Linked DNA regions of Homo sapiens: region 1 is linked to region 2. The links come from fine-mapping of genetic effects on gene expression. Tissue or cell type: whole blood. Region 2 holds a variant in brackets; the other region holds the start of a gene. All regions are shown on one strand. Distances are between the middles of the regions.

Region 1 (8,099 bases), 130 kb before region 2:
TGGATTAAAGACTTAAACATAAGACCTCAGACCGTCAAACTGCTGGAGGAAAACGTAGGGGAAAAGCTTCTTGGCACTGGTCTTGACGATAATTTTTTGGATATGACACCAAAAGCAAAGGCAACATAAACCAGAATAAACAAGCAGGATAGCATCACACTAAAGAGCTTCTCCATGTCAGAGGAAACAATGAACAAAATCAAAATGTAACTTATGGAATGGGAGAAAACATTCGCAAACCATTTGCGTTCTGCCTCCCCGGAGACACCTGTGAGCAGGTCAGGCAGGGGCAATAATGGCTGTGAAATTATCCTGGAGGGAAGGTCGACAGCTTTGAGAAGTTTCCCTTCAGCCCCCTGGTGCTGGATAAAGGAGTAAAGAGGCCAAAGCCACAGCCCAGGGCAGCAGCGTCGCTGGCAGCACTCAAAGCCCTGAGCTGGACGCCAGTGTAGGTGGCTCCTACACTCCTATCCATCTGTGCAGGGCCTTGGGCACCATGTGCAGGTGTGCCAGCTAGAAGCTGGCAGTGAGTGCCTGCCCACCCCACTTCCAACACGGAGGGACAGACCTCCAGAGCCTCAGGAAAGACTGCAAAAATAATCAAATCCTCACCCTGGGCCCAGGAAGGTTATATGGTTTTCCCACAGCAACACTGCTAGTTGGAGTCAGAGCTGGGACTAGAACCCTTCACTTTTAACTCCCTCAGTCAGTGCTCTGCCCATGAACTTGTAATCTGGTGAATAGCAGAGCCTTCTGCCACCTTGCACAGCCCCAGCCATTGATGGAGTCTCCCTCCCTCCCTTTCCTTTCTTCTTTCTTCCTTTCTCTCCTCCTTTCCTTCTCCTCCCTCCCTTCCTTCTCTCCTTCCCCTTGCTTCCCCCTCTTTCCTTCCTGACTCCTACCTTCCCTCTCTCCCTCCCTCATTTCCCCCTCCTCCCTTTCCTCCTCCTTTTATTCAATGAGTATCAATTTGTAGGCTTCTGCTGGGCCCTGCATTGTTTATGCCACTCTGAAGACTTAGTCCCTGTCCCAGGCCACCCAGAGACCCCACAGCCAATCCGAGGGAGCTTTCTCTGCAGGCTGTGCCAAGATAACAATGAGAGAGACACATGCCTGCCAGAATGGGAGGCCCGAGCTGAGCATTGAGGATAAGCCCATGGACCACAAGCTGCATGCTCTGCTGTTTTATTTATGATTTCTCCTAATAACTGTGGAAGATTTTTGTGCATTTGTCATCATGCAAATGAAAGCATGATTGCCAATGCACACAAAGTTATTAACATCTAAACAATAGTCTCTACTAACAGGAATGGAATTAGAAGAATAAGGTAAGTGGCAGGGGCAGGGGGACTGAAAAAGAATAAATTAAAAAAAAATCAAATGAAGGAAATTAGAACTGGTATAATAGGAAAGAAATGGAAACAACCTAATGTCCAAAAACATAGGAATGTTCAATAATTTCCACATTTCCATAAGCCAGAATTCCAAGCAGCTATTAAAAGAGTTTTGGAAGAGGTTGGGTGCGGAAGCTCACGCCTGTAATCCCAGCACTTTGGGAGGCCGAGGCGGGCAGATCACCTGAGGTCAGGAGTTCGAGACCAGCCTGGCCAACATGGTGAAACCCCGTCTCTACTAAAATACAAAAATTAGCTGGGCAGGTGCCTGTAATCCCAGCTACTCGTGAGGCTGAGGCAGGAGAATTGCTCAAACCCAGGAGGGGGAGGTTGCAGTGAGCTGAGATCACGCCACTGCACTCCAGCCTGGGCGACAAGAGCAAAACTCTGTCTGAAGAAAAAAAAAAAGTGTTTTGGAAGAATATGTAATGATATGGAAAGCACTCATGATAAAAGAGTAACTGAAAAATGTATGATAAAAAATCGTATGTGAATATGTCATAGCTTTAACATTATTTAAAATTATATAGGTAAAAGACTGAAAAGGTATATACTGATATACTAAGAAAAGTTTTCCCTGGATGTTGGAATTAGAGGCAATTGTTAGTCTCTTTTGCCTAGGTTTCTAAATTTCATGAGTTACTTTTATATCAGATAAACCATTTTCAAGACACCTACGAGGTTAGTGGAAAAGTAATTATGGTTTTTGCCATTACTTTCACAACAAAGGATCTGACAGGAGGACAGTATGGACAGGGGAGAAGGCGTGTTGGGAACCATATGGAAGCCTGTGCGCCTCACAGGGAAACTGTCAGGAGCCGGGGAGCCACGCCGCGCGTGGGAAGCGGGGGCTCATGCGTGGTGCCATGATCCGCCCCGCGCTGGGGAGAACATGAGGACTAGAACTCAGAGTTCATGCCCCCAACTTTGACCTCTTTCTACTTTATATTAGAAGCATATTGTGTGTTTAGAATGAACAGTGATTCAACTTGAATGTGTACTGCTGAAAATTTCAAAGGACATTTTAATAAAGGAAGGAAGAAACAAAGGATGGAGAGAAAGAAAAAATGTAAATATAGTCACGTGTCGCTCAGAGACAGGAATACATTCCGAGAAACACATCTTAAGGCAACTTCTATGTGGGAACATCATAGAGCATCCTTGCACGAACACAGATGGTAGAGCCGACTACATCCCTGAGCTCCATGGTCCAGCCTTTTGCTCCTAGGCTACAAACCTGTGCAGCACGTGACTGTCCTGAATGTTGCAGGCAGTTGTCACACGATGGTAAGTATTTGTGCATCTAAACATAGCTAAACATAGAAATCATGCAGTAAAAATACAGTATAAAGATAAAAAATGGGCCGGGCACAGTGGCTCATGCCTGTAAATCCCAGCACTTTGGGAGGCTGAGGCTGGCGGATCGCTGGAGGTCGGGAGTTTGAGACCAGCCTGACCAACATGGTGAAACCCCGTCTCTACTAAAAATACAAAAATTAGCTAGGCATAGTGGTGCACACCTGTAATCCCAGCTACTCGGGAGGCTGAGACAGGAGAATTGCTTGAACTCGGGAGGCAGAGGTTGCAGTGAGCCAAGATCGCACTATTGCACTCCAGCTCTGGGCTACAGAGTGAGACTCCATCTCAAAAAAATAAAAAATAAAAAACCAAGATACAAAATGGTAGACCTGTCTAGGGCACTCACCATGAGTGGAGCTTGCAGGACTGGGAGTTGCTCTGGGTGAGTCAGTGAGTGAGTAGTGAGTGAATGTGAAGAACTAGGACATTACCGTACACAACTACAGACTTTACGGATACACTTAGGCTACACTAAATGCATTTGAAAAATAAAGTAACTGTGCTATGACGTCACTAGGCAGTAGGAATTTTTCAGCTCCATTACAATCTTATGGGACCACAGTGGTCTATATCGTCCGTTGTTGACCCAAACATCGTGAAGCCAAGCATAACATGGCTGTATTAGGAAACACTCAGATTCTGCTCCGGGAAGACAACGAAGCTGTGGGCAAGTGCCCACCCCTCTATCAATATCAGCATCTCGGAGCACCACGCTCTCAGAGCCAGTGGCCCGCATCCCCCGCTCCACCCACAGATCCACTCCCTCTGCAGCAGCTGCAGCAGGGGACCCCCAGCCCGGAGCGACCCCGGCACCGCCCAGCCAGAAGGGGAGAGGGGAGACTGACCATGACGATCTCCAGCACTTCATTCTTGCTGATGGTCCCGTTACCGTCCACGTCGTAGAGGGAGAAGGCCCACTCCAGCTTCTGGTTGGTCTTGCCCGCGGTGGTCATGTGCAGGGCGATGACGTACTCCTTGAAGTCCAGGGTGCCGTCGAGGTTGGAATCGAAGCTGCGGAACACATGCTGGGCGTAGGCCTTGGGGTCGGTGTCGGGGAAGAACTTGGCGTAGATGCTCTGGAACTGCTGCTGGGTGATGCGGCCGGTGGGACAGTCCTTCAGGAAGGACTGGTACCAGGAGCACAGCTCCTCCTCCGAGAACTTGGTGTTCAGCTGCAGCTCCTCCAGGATCTCCTTGGACAGGGCCCCACTTTTGCTGTTCCCCATGAGTGAGGAAGAGTGGGCAGCGGCTGGGGAGTCGCTGGGTGGGTGGGACGTGCGTGGTCCCCTGGCCGCAGGCTGGGCTCAAGGCTGGTGTGAGCTGAAGACCGAGATGCTGGTGGCTTAGGAGGATTTGCGACCAGTTCTTCGCAATCCTTGAAGGGAGGAGGGGCCCAGGAGCTTTGTGGAGGGCGGGAGCGGTGGGGGGGGGTGCTCCCAGAACCCTAGTGAGATTAAAATAAAGAGCCCAGGGCAGGCAGGCAATTCATCTCGGCCTCCCGGGACGATACTAGAACAGGACAGGAGGTTGGAACCCTCAGAGCTGGGGCCTCCGGCACCCCCAGCCCCAGCCCTCTAACAGCAGCCATGTTCCCTGTTTCTCTTCCTCACTAACTCTGAGCATCTCGGGGCGGGGCTGGCATCTCATATCAAGCCCTAGAATGCAATGGTTAGGAGCACAGACTCTGGGGCCAGCATGGGTTCAAGTCCCAGCTTGGCTACTTAACTAGCTGTGTGGCCCCAGGCTTGTTTCTTCACCTCTTTCCACCTGGGACACTCTTCTAAACCTTCACTGCAGTCATGTCTCTGCTTAAATGTCACCTGCTCAGCCAGGCCTATACTGACCCTCTATCTATAATAGCACAACCCCCACCATCATCGGCACGCTGCATGTCCCCTCACCGGAATGAAAGCTCCGTGAAGGATGGGATTTTGTCTGTGTTGTTCCCGGATGCATTTCCATTGCCAGAACCTGATAGGCTTGGGCCCCCAGCAAGTCTTTCTTGAATAAATGGGCATCATAGCATCTACCACACTGTCATTGTGAGGCTGATGTGAGTCAATATGTCTGACACACTTAGAAACTGGCACATGGCTAATGCTAAACACTCGTTTTGTTATTGTCCATCAGTCACAGGGAGTGAAGGTGAACTGCCTGAAGGGACCAGCAGGGGGCAGCCAGGCCTGTGTCACCTCGGGAAGGGGCTGCCAGAGAACGTGGTCACATGGGATGGTGAGATTTTTGGGTTTTTTTAAATTATTCAAGAGAAATCCAAAAATCAGAATTTTTCTTGCAATTTCCACACTTTTCAACTTTGGCAATTAATTCAAAATTTTAATGGTGGCTCACGTCTGTAATCCCAGCACTTTGGGAGACTGAGTGGGGAGATTACAAGGTTAGGAGTTCGAGACCAGCCTGGCCAACATGGTGAAACCCTGTCTCTACTAAAAATACAAAAAATTAGCCGGGCATGGTGGCAGGTGACTGTAATCCCAGCTACTTGGGAGGCTGAGGCTGGAGAATCGCTTGAACCCGGGAGGCAGAGGTTGCAGTGAGCCGAGATTGCACCATTGCACTCCAGCCTGGGTGACAAGTGTGAGACTCCATCTCAAAAAAACAAAACAAAAACAAAAACAAAAACAAAACAAAACATGGTGTGGGCCAAACACAATCTATCTGTGGGTCCATGGCAGGCTGCAGGGTGTCCGTCTGCAGTGGACTTGGAGTGAGCAGGCAAGAAAACGTGTTTGCTGAGTGAATGGATAAATAACTGAGTGGTCAGAGACGGAGCTGTGCAAAGGCAGGCTTCGCGTCTGTGCAGCTCAGCGGGGAGTATCAAGCACGAGGAAGCAACCTAGTGAGGACGCTGCACACCTGGATTCTTGTCACCCAGAAGGAAGGGAGGGTGGGCGTGCACTTTCCTTAGCGGAGCGCAGTGCTCGAGGGGACACACTCAGAACCCCAGCCTTGCCACCGTGGATGGAGAGTTGTCTCTTTTTGCCCTGGGGTGAGAATGATGAAGAATAAACCCCACGGTCTCCAGGCAGGTAAACTGGTTTTTTTTTAGACGGAGTCTCCCTCTGTCACTTAGGCTGGGCACGATCTTGGCTCACTGCAACCTCCGCCTCCTGGTTTCAAGCAATTCTCCTGTCTCAGTCCCCTGAGAAGCTGGGACTACAGGTGTCTGCCACCACGCCCAGCTAATTTTTTTTTGGTATTTTTAGTAGAGTCGAGGTTTCACCATATTGGTCAGGCTGGTCTCGTAAACTCCTGACCTCAGGTGATCCGCCCGCCTTGCATCTCAAAGTGTAAAGTGGGGATTTTAGCCTACTTACTAACAGGCTAGTGGCAGCAGAAGGTAGGTCCCTGCTGCTGGGAGAAAGCCACCTGCCAGGCCCACCTCATGTCACTCTGGAAGGACCGAGAGGTTCAGGCACCAAGGGGCAGACTCATCCCTCCCAGCCGCTCTGCCCAGTACAGTTTCAGAGATTTCTCAGGAAACCTGCATATTGGGGTGTGTGTGTGAACTTTCTAATTTTTTTCCATCACTTTGTGAGTTTTTTTTTTTTTGTTTGTTTGTTTTTTTTGTTTTTTTTTTTTTAAGACAGAGCCTCATTCTGCGCCCAGGCTGGAGTGCAATGGCACGATCTCGGCTCACTGCAACCTCTGCCTCCCAGGTTCAAGCGATTTTCCTGCCTCAGCCTCCCAAGTAGCTGGGATTACAGGCGCTCACCACCATGCCCAGCTAATTTTTGTGTTTTTAGCAGAGATGGGATTTCACCTTGTTGGTCAGGCCGGTCTCGATCCCCTGACCTCATGATCTGCCTGCTTTGGCCTCCCCAAGTGCTGGGATTACAGGCATGAGCCACTGCGCCCAGTGAGAATATTACTTCTGAATAGGAGTCCTTCCTCTCCTAGGCTTTCACCATCCTGTAGCGTGCATTTATTCTCAAGAGCAGTTAGAAACAGGACAGTCACTAGCCTTGAAAACAAACGGGAGCCCAAGCCACACCCTGGAATCGCATTCATTCCAGAGCTTCCTTGCAGCCCTGGGGATGGAGGGAGAGTGAGGTCAGAGGCCTCGGCCCCTTGCTCTGAGCCACTAGTAGGGGGCGACTGGAAGTGCCTCCTGGATCGCACCCCTGTCCACATCAAGCCTGCAGCAGATGAGGCGAAGCCAGTGTTACAAGTGAGAAGTGGGGCCTCCTAAAGGCATGTCACCAGCCTGGGGTCACATGGTTGCTAAATGGCAATGCCAGAAGGAAGGAAAGTCCAGGTCTGCCAGCCTGTCCATTTAGGCTTCCTTTGTCTACGTCACAGGAGGCCTGAGCCTAGAGGACAAGTAGGTGAGGAGGTGGGGTTACCATGTCAATGAAAGAGGCCCTGGGCGAGGCAGAAGGCAGCCAGAGCCCTCCAGTCTTTGCTGTCCTCTCCAGGCACAAGGAGGAAGGAGCTGGACCCAGGTCGGAAGCAGCCTGGTACAGTCCACATTCTCCAGGTTGCTGTGCCCAGGAGGGGCCCCAGGGGACCGCAGGCAGCTGTGTTGATGCTGAGAGTGAGGGGTCATGACCTGGAGGTTTGTTTGAAAACCTGCATAAACATCTTCTATCAGAGGGAGAGCTTATGCTCCTTAGCCAAACAAGTTGTTGGAGATGATGTATTGTGAGTCGATTTGTTAAGTCTGAGCTGGGGCCATAAACTCTCCCAAAACCCAAAGACTGCTCTAGAGGAGAAGGCTTCATCTCCAGGCAGAGGATCCCAGTTTTGGTCTCGCTCTCCTCGCTGGACTGAAAGATGCTTCCCAGAAGCTGGCCCTGTCCCCTCAAGCAGGAGCTCCATCTTGGCCATTAGCTGGGACCCAGACGCCACCCCTTCCCCATTGCTCGACCTTGCCTGCTATGAGCTGAAGGCCAAGACGACCCTCCTGCCCTCTGGCCTGGAGCCAGCACCTGCAGAGAAGTCCGCATTGAGAGGGAAAAGGGGGTATGGAGAAGGTGGCGGGGGAGACAGAGAATGGGGAAGGACCCTCCTCCCACAGCTGTCCCCATTGCAGAAAATGACAATCCATCCTTTTGATGACTTGGATTGAGGTCCTTGGCATCATTCTCAGTGTTTCTCTTTCGGTCACAACCCACTCCAATCTATCAAGAAATCATCTTGACTCTACCTTCAAGGTACATCCAGAACCAGACCGTTCTTCCCGCCTCCCTTGCACCTGCCTTGTGCAGGCAGCATCACCGCTGCCTCCTAACAGCTCTTCCTGCTTCTGCTCTTGTCCCCTTACAGCCCCGCAGTGAGCCCCATGGCCATGAAATCAGGTCATGCACTATGGCTGCCCACTTCTCC
Region 2 (8,105 bases):
GAGCATATCCTGGAGGGAGACCATGTACCAAAACAGGCCAGCCTTTCCATGCAACCTGGACCTCTCACAGCTGTACAGAGCCTCAAGAGAGTGATCACCACTCTCTTGGAGGTCCTCCTTTGCAAAGAAAGAAGATGGATGCGTAACTTCTGGGGGTGGAAAGATTGGTGAAACAAGGCTGTTGTACTGCTAAGTATCAGAAGAGCTTCCATCATCACTGTTGCAGCCTCCACCACCAAGCTGGAAAGATGTCTCAGCCAAGCCTGGAAGCACAGTGCATTACTGGGCAGGTACTTCTGCTAGGGAGCCATGACCCCAGGAGCTCCCACTTACCTTCATAAAGTTTTATAGTCCTCAAATGGCTTTTGCCTTACAATGCCCCAGCTAGAACTGGGCCGTGGGGTAAAAGCCAGATAGGTGGGTAGAATCCAAGTTTCTTACTTGGAAAAAGTTACATGGAGGAAGCAAGGTTTGGACTCCATTAAAATCACATCACCACTCTGCTTCTCCATCACACAGCTCCAACTACGAAACTGCTCCCCAGGTAACTAGGGGAGCCAAGACTTCCTTTCTCTCCAAGACATCCTTCATAAATCTTTCTCCTCCTCCCATCCGCTTTTCCTGATCTCTCACACAATGACCCACGTCTTTTTTTTTTTTCCTCCCTGCTCATGCCTTGGATCTGTGAAAGGTGCCCCCTAGCACACAGGGTCCCCAGACCACCACAGCTCAGCAGTTAGACCCCAAATCTCAGTTTTCAGAGCTGCCTCTTTACCATGGCACAGTCATTTTAGAAACATGCAGAGAAAAGCAAACTGGAGCATACATCTGCAGGCAAGAAAAATCAATTCTTACCATCAGAGAACAGCTAACCTTCTCTGGGGGCTGCTACCTCAGAGGAGAGTCTTGGGTCCTGCCTGAAGCCCTCAGACTCAGCACCAAGACTCCGCCGGCTTCCTCTTCATGGCAGCCTCTCCGGGAAATGGGGCTGAGGCAAGTCGCTAGCCCAGGGCCAGTGTTCTGGGCACCCCAGCGGAGGTTCCTGTGGCTTTGCTCATTGCTGTTCTTTCACAAAGAACCCACTACATTGCATAGTTCCTTCCAAATCCGCTCCAGTGCTTGCTGGGAAATTAACAACTTGTTCTGGACTTTCCAGATGCAATGTTTCTGGAGGCCTTTCTTTTTTTCCCACTCTCCCTCTTTTTCCCCTTTCTCAGCTAAAAAACGTTGGCTGAGGTCACAACAAACAATGGCCAAGCTTGTGTCACTGAGCAGATGCCTCCCACCCCCAGGCCTGTGGACAAGGGCAGCTTTGTCCACTGTGTTTTAGGCGGGACTTCCTGGGCCTGCCCAAGCCCTGCTGGAGAATGTTTTGGCCAACTTCCTCCCAACCCTAAGTCACAGCTCTGGTCCTGGCCCCGGCCCCGGCCCCAGCTGTGTGAACCCAAGGCCAGATAAAAACCAACATAAAAAGAACGGAGAATGTTCCCCCAAAGAACCACTGTGTGGAAAGCTGGTGCCTCCAGAGGGGCGAGATGAAGGTCTCTTGCCTTCACTCTGCCCTCGCCACCATCAAACCTGGACAGATAACGAACAAAGACAGGCTCATGTGAGGTCTCCACTGAAAGGGGCCTGAGGATCACAAAGTCATTAGTTACAAGTGGAGAAAGGATTGGACCCCAAGAGCAATACTGCAGCCACCAACTAAATGAGCTTGGGCAGGGCTTGGATCCTTCATGAATATATCCTATCACTCCGTTTAGAAAGGTTTTTGGAGCAGCTGACTATTTAGCACTCAAAATGCCGCATATTTCTGTGTTTGCTTTCAGATGCAAACCTTTGGGGTTTTAGGAACTGATTCTTTATATAGAATTAAATATGGTTTTCTAGAGAAACCAAGATCCTGAGGACCGAGTGGTTCCCTATTAAGCAAATGGATAAACTTATTTATGAAGAGGTTTCAATGCCAGCTCCTTGGGTCGGGGGAAGAAAATAAGTACAATCGTCTAAGGATGGAGTCAGACCAGAGCTAAGCTGTTGTTTTACTACATACTAGCTCCAAGACCCTGGGCAACGGCTCCAGCTTCAATTTCTCCAAGTGTAAAATGCAGATGATCACAGTATCTTTCTCAAAAGATTGCTGTGAGAGATTAAAGGGGGTGGGGGTGGGGCATCCATGTAAACATTTCACCTAGTGGACGAAGTAAATGCTCAATGAAAGCTAGGATTTTTGTTGTTACTATCACCAGTGGCTGAAAGGTAGGCACTGCAGTTACCCCGGGTCCAAAAAGAGTCCAGACTGAACAATAAAAAGCAAACAGCCCAATTTAAAAAAATGAGCAAAAGATATTCCTCCAAAGAAGATATAAAAATGACCAATAAGCACATTTAAAGATGCTCAATATCACTAATCATGAGGGAAATGCAAATCAAAACTACAGTGAGATATTAGCTCACACCCATTAGGACAGGTTCTTAAAAAAAAAAAACCAGACAAGGCCAGGCACAATGGCTCATGCCTGTAATCCCAGCACTGTGGGAGGCCAAGACGGGTGGATCACTTGAGGCCAGGAGTTCAAGACCAACCCGGCCAACGTGGTGATACCCCGTCTCTACTAAAAATACAAAAATTAGCCAGTCGTGGTGGTGTATACCTGTAGTCCCAGCTACTTGGGAGGCTGAGGCAGGAGAATCCAGGAGGCGGAGGGTGCAGTGAGCTAGGATCACACCACTCTCACTCCAGCCTGGGCAACGGAGCAAGGCTCTGTCTCAAAACAAACAAATAAACAAATATCAACAAAACAGAAAAGAACAGGTACTAGTAAGGATTGAGAACTGTTGGAACCCTTGTGCCCTTCTGGTGGGAATGTAAAATAGTACAGCCCCTGTGGAAAATAGTGTGTTAATTCTTCAAAAAAATTAAACAAAGAATTGCCATATGGTCCAGCAATTCCATTAATAGGTATATACCAAAAAGAACTGAAAGCAGAGTCCTGAAGGGAGGGTCTTGCTGCCTGTTCATGGCAACATTATTCACAAGAGCCAGAAGGTGGAAACAATGCAAGTCGTAGTAAAATAAACACAATAGAATATTACTCA[G/A]CCTTAAGAAGGAAGGAATTTTTTTTTTTTTTTTTTTTTTGAGACGAAGTCTTGCTCTGTCACCCAAGCTGGAGTGCAGTGGCGCAATCTCGGCTCACTGCAAGCTCCGCCTCCTGGGTTCAAGCGATTCTCCTGCTTCAGCCTCCCAAGTAGCTGGGACTACAGGTGCGCACCACCATGCCTGGCTAATTGGAAGGAAATTTTGACATATGCAACCATGTGGATGGACCTTAAGGACATTATGCTCAGTGCAACAGCCAGACACAAAGGGACAAATACCATTTGCTTCACTTCTATGAGGCACCTAGAGAAGTCAAATTAATAGCGACAGGTTGCAGAATGGAGGTGACCAGGTGCTGTGGGCAGGGAATGATGGGAAGTTTGTGTTTAATGGGTCCAGAGTGTCACTGGTGCAAGATGGAAGCATTCTGGAGATTAATGGTGGTGATGATGGCTGCACAAACACGTGGGTATACTCAAAGCCACTGAACTATACATTTAAAACTGATGGAGATGGTGGATTTCATGTCATGCATATTTTGCCATGATTAAAAAAAAAAAGCCCCCAAGACCCACAGAGATAGTTTAGATCAAAAGACCCTGTGACCCATAAGCCGCTTCATGAGATACACCACCTCAGGCTCTCCATGTACACCCAGAGGGAAGCTGCCCCAGCCTCTTGGCAATGGTGAAGAGAAAGCCCACCTAGAAGATGAGGGTGGGACCAGGGACGGTGGCTCACGTCTGTAATCCCAACACTTTGGAAGGCTGAGGTAGGTGGATCATTTGAGGTCAGGAGTTCGAGACCAGCCTGGCCAACATGGCGAAAACCCATCTCTACTAAAAATACAAAAAATTGGCTAGGCATGGTGGCGGGCGCCTGTAATCCCAGCTACTCAGGAGGCTGAGGCAGGAGAATTACTTGAACCCGGGAGGCAGAGGTTGTAGTGAGCCAAGATCATGCCACTGCACTCCAACCTGGACGTCAGAGTGAGACCCTGTCTCAAAAATAAATAAATAAATAAAGACGACGAGGCTGGCCACCTATAGCAGGACTCACTCACCATGGCTCGTCTTGCGTTCAATCTTGGGGAGACCGAGGTGACACAGCCAGCATCCTAATGTCAATCGAGGGATTTTCCGTTTAGGGGTGTGGCACCCTCTGGGGCTCCCAGAGGGGGTGACAATGTGCCTTTCCCTTGGACATATCAATTCCTTCTGTGTCCGCATCCCACCTTCCTGGTCTTTTCTCTTACATGCCTGACAGCAGGGCCCATCTCTTCCTTCCTAAAGTTACTGACGTGGCTGCTGGGGGGACTCTTCCTCCCTCTCTAATTGCTGGGTTTCAATCTGCTGCAGGAGTGGCTGTGAGGATCTTGTACTGAGCACTCACTTTGGACCAGGCGCTGTTCTATGCTTCACATGTTTCATGTCACTTAATCCCTCTAACAAACCAAAAAGGAAAATTCTATGATCGCCCTCATTTAACAGAGGAAAACAGAGGCTCCTGCGAGAGATTGGGCAGGATGGGTCAGAAGAACAAGCCACAGGGGCAATATTCTAGGCCATGGGGCCAGCCTGAGCCAAGGTGAGAGAGAAACCGTGTGGGTAGAGGCTGTGGGGGAAAAGCAGGTGGATCCATTCATTAGAGTTTAAGAGGCATGGGAGGTGAGAAATATAGTAGTGAAGGATGGCATCAGATCATGGGAGGCCATGAGGACACCAAGAACTAAGAAATTTCGATTCTATAAAGGAGAAGAAACCATCAGTGGATTCTGAGCCAGGGAGAAGTCACAATCAGGGCTGTGCTTTGTAGAAATCATCATGATACCAGGGTATAAAAAGGTCAAATGTGAGGGAGAAACTAGAGGGAGGAAACCGGCTATAGAATCCCCCCCACCTTCTTTCTCTCTCCCCCCTCTCACCCATCATAAAAACAAGAGAAAGGCAATGCTCAAGCCTACACTTGCAAAATGGTCCCAAACCAGCCATGAAGAGGAGGCAAGAGCATCACATCCAGCGGTGGGGAGTCCCCCACCGGCAGCTGAGTTATTTGCATCTTCTCTCTGCAGTGTGGGAGGAGAGGCCGGGTGACGAATCCACACACTCGCTTTTGAGGTCAGACATGCTACAGAAATAGACAGGACCAAGATACTTTTCTGTTCTTGGAGATGGGCTCTCACCCATAAGAAGGTAAAAGCGGGCCGGGCACGGTGGCTCACACCTGTAATCCCAACACTTTGGGAGGCCGAGGCAGGTGGATGACCTGAGGTCAGGAGTTTGAGACTAGCATGGCCAACATGGCAAAACCCCACCTCTACTAAAAATACAAAAATTAGCCAGGCGTGGTGGTGTGCGCCTGTAATCCCAGCTACCAGGGAGGCTGAGACAGGAGAATTGCTTGAACTCAGGAGGCAGAGGTTGCAGTGAGCCAAGATCGTGCAGCTGCACTCCGGCCTGAGTGACAGAGCAAGACTGCCTAAAAAAAAAAAAAAAAAAGAAGAAGGTAAAAGCAAAACTTCATTTGAACCTAGATGGCCAAGACCTTCACCTTCAGTCCTTACAGGTTTGTGAAATTAAAATGGCCATGAAAGCTTTCATAGCCTGTGACTCCTCAGTTTTGTAACAGCAAAGAGGGGACAGTTTTGATGCTGTTAAACATTAACAGCCGTCTCCGACACCACTTTGACATTGCATCACACAGACGAACAGATACAATCACAGACAACAATGCATCACTCCAGGCAACACACAGAAATCACTGTCATTGCAAATCCCAGTAGGGCCCCCAGCCAAGGGCAAGGGACCTTTCCGGGCCATTACAAACCAGGAGGCTGATCTGCTGTGGCCTGACCTCAGCAGAACACACTAGTCCTGCAGACATTTAATTCTTTAGGATTCCCCAAAGTTAATCTCTCAGAGTATGGAAGACTCACGAATACATTCTAAGGGTTTACTGTTTGGGTTCATCCTAGCATCTCAATCCAGAAGTCACTTTGGTTTTCCTTTATTAACCATCCTTAGTGATTAGCGTTGGCCGTGAAAAACACGCTACTGGTCTCTCCTTGTGGCCTCTGCAAATAGATAGGTTGCTACATATGAAGCCACACACACGAACGGCAGACAGCAGAGAATCCGTGATCCCAAAGCAAAAAGACTGATGATATTTCCACCAACCTGAGTTTTCCTGAGTTCAACGGCATCAGATAAGACCAACCCTCTTATTATTTTTTTCGTTTCAGTCAAGTTGAAAACTGTCAACCAAAATAGGCCTTATTTGCTGTAGGCCCTTGTCCTCTGTAGGATGAATTGGGTTGTCTTAAAATGATAATTAATAGGCCGAGCACGGTGGCTCATGCCTGTAATCCTAGCACGTTGGGAAGCCAAGACGGGCAGATCATGAGGTCACGAGTTCAAAACCAGCCTGGCCAATATTGTGAAATCCTGTCTCTATTAAAAATACGAAAATTAGCTGGGCGTGGTGGCACGTGCCTGTAGTCCCAGCTACTTGGGAAGCTGAGGCAGTAGAATCACTTGAACCTGGGAGGCAGAGGTTGCAGTGAGCTGAGATAGTGCCACCGCACTCCGGCCTGGGTGACAGAGCGAGACTCCGTCAAAAAAAAAAAAAAAAAAAAAAAGATAATTAATAAGAAAACACATCTGGGTAGGGTGATGACTCACTTTTGTAACTGCTTCACAGTCATGAACGGAAAAATTATTCATCAGCCCAAGCAGTCTCTAGGGTACAGGGTCTCAGGGACGCCCCCTTCCTCCATACGTGGCCCCCTGTCTGCATGATCAATCAACCAACTAATAGTTACTAACTACCCTTTCCTGAATCCTGTGTGGGATGCAGGCAGGTATTGTATGTAGGACCTGACTCCTAAAATTCGGAAGCTAAGTCGCAAACATGGGCAAAAAAAAGGAATAAGTATCAAAGGAGTCTTCAACAGTGCCAAATGCTATGTGATAAGCTGGCAGACAATAAGAGCTTTCAGAATCCAGAGGAGGGCGAGGTCACTCTTGGCTGGGATGGTACAGGGAGGCTTCCCAAAAGATAAAGAACTTGCCTCACAGCAGGGATAAAAAACAAGGGCTTGACTGGAGCCCGAGGAACATGATGTACGAAGCAGAATAAGGTTTGATAAAGGACGGGACATAAGGAAATGAGAGACAGCGAAGTTGATTCGGAAGGAAATGACAGAAGTTCGAACCAGTAACTCGAAGAGATGTGGCTATGGTGACAGCCAGTTTAGGGGGATGCAGTAGAGTCTGTTGACCATGGATCCAAGTTCAAAGTGTTCGGTGGGGAGTAGGGGTGAGTCTGGCCCTTGGCACATGGAGCTGGAGCTGGAGGCATCTGCTCAGAGATGGTGGTGAGATCCTACAGGCTGACAAGGAGTTCACAGAGAAAGAAAGGACCTTGAGCTGAACCTTGGGGCATGCTCTTGCTTAAGCAGTGGGAGAAGAATTATTCTCCCCCAGCATGCCTCAGGCCCAATCCCTCCCTCTCCTGTGCCTTTCATTAGTGCATGCAACACCCCCAGGGCCCCTCTCCAAGACTTTCAAAGGCAAGAACCAGGTCTTCATCTTTTTCACCTCTAACCAGACTAGTGCTCAACACTCAGGGGCTACATGGGGAATGAACGATGTGAGTTCTGAGAATCAGGCAGAGAAACCAAATGAAGAGGGGGGATACAAGAAGAAATAAGTACAGCTGACCCTTGAACAACACGAGGGTTTAGAGGTGCTAACCCCCATCTCCCCATGTGGTTGAAAATCTGTACCTAACTTTTGACTCCCTCAAAAGTTAACTACTAACAACCTACTGCTGACTAGAAGCCTTAGCGATAACCTAAACAGTTGATAAACATGTATTCTGTATGTTATCCATATTACAGACTTTATTCCTAAAGTAAGCTAGAGAAAAATAAAATGTTAAGAAAATCATAAGGGGCCGGGCACAGTAGCTCACACCTATAATCCCAACACCTTGGGAGGCTGAA

Evidence for each region. PIP is the estimated chance that this variant, and not a neighbour inherited with it, causes the effect.
Region 1: RCVRN starts here. The variant in region 2 is fine-mapped to the expression of RCVRN in whole blood (TOPMed, PIP above 0.99).

What each region holds. Positions count from the first base shown.
Region 1 is chr17:9,901,202-9,909,300 of GRCh38, forward strand. RCVRN (recoverin) reads right to left here and starts at 4,070. Exons shown (of 3, transcript NM_002903.3): 1 at 3,599-4,070. The coding sequence starts at 3,979.
Region 2 is chr17:10,035,579-10,043,683 of GRCh38, forward strand. All of the region lies in intron 1 of GAS7 (growth arrest specific 7), which reads right to left. Among named protein-coding and RNA genes, the nearest start is that of RCVRN, 130 kb to the left of the region's middle. The variant G/A (reference allele first, on the strand shown) is at 3,100.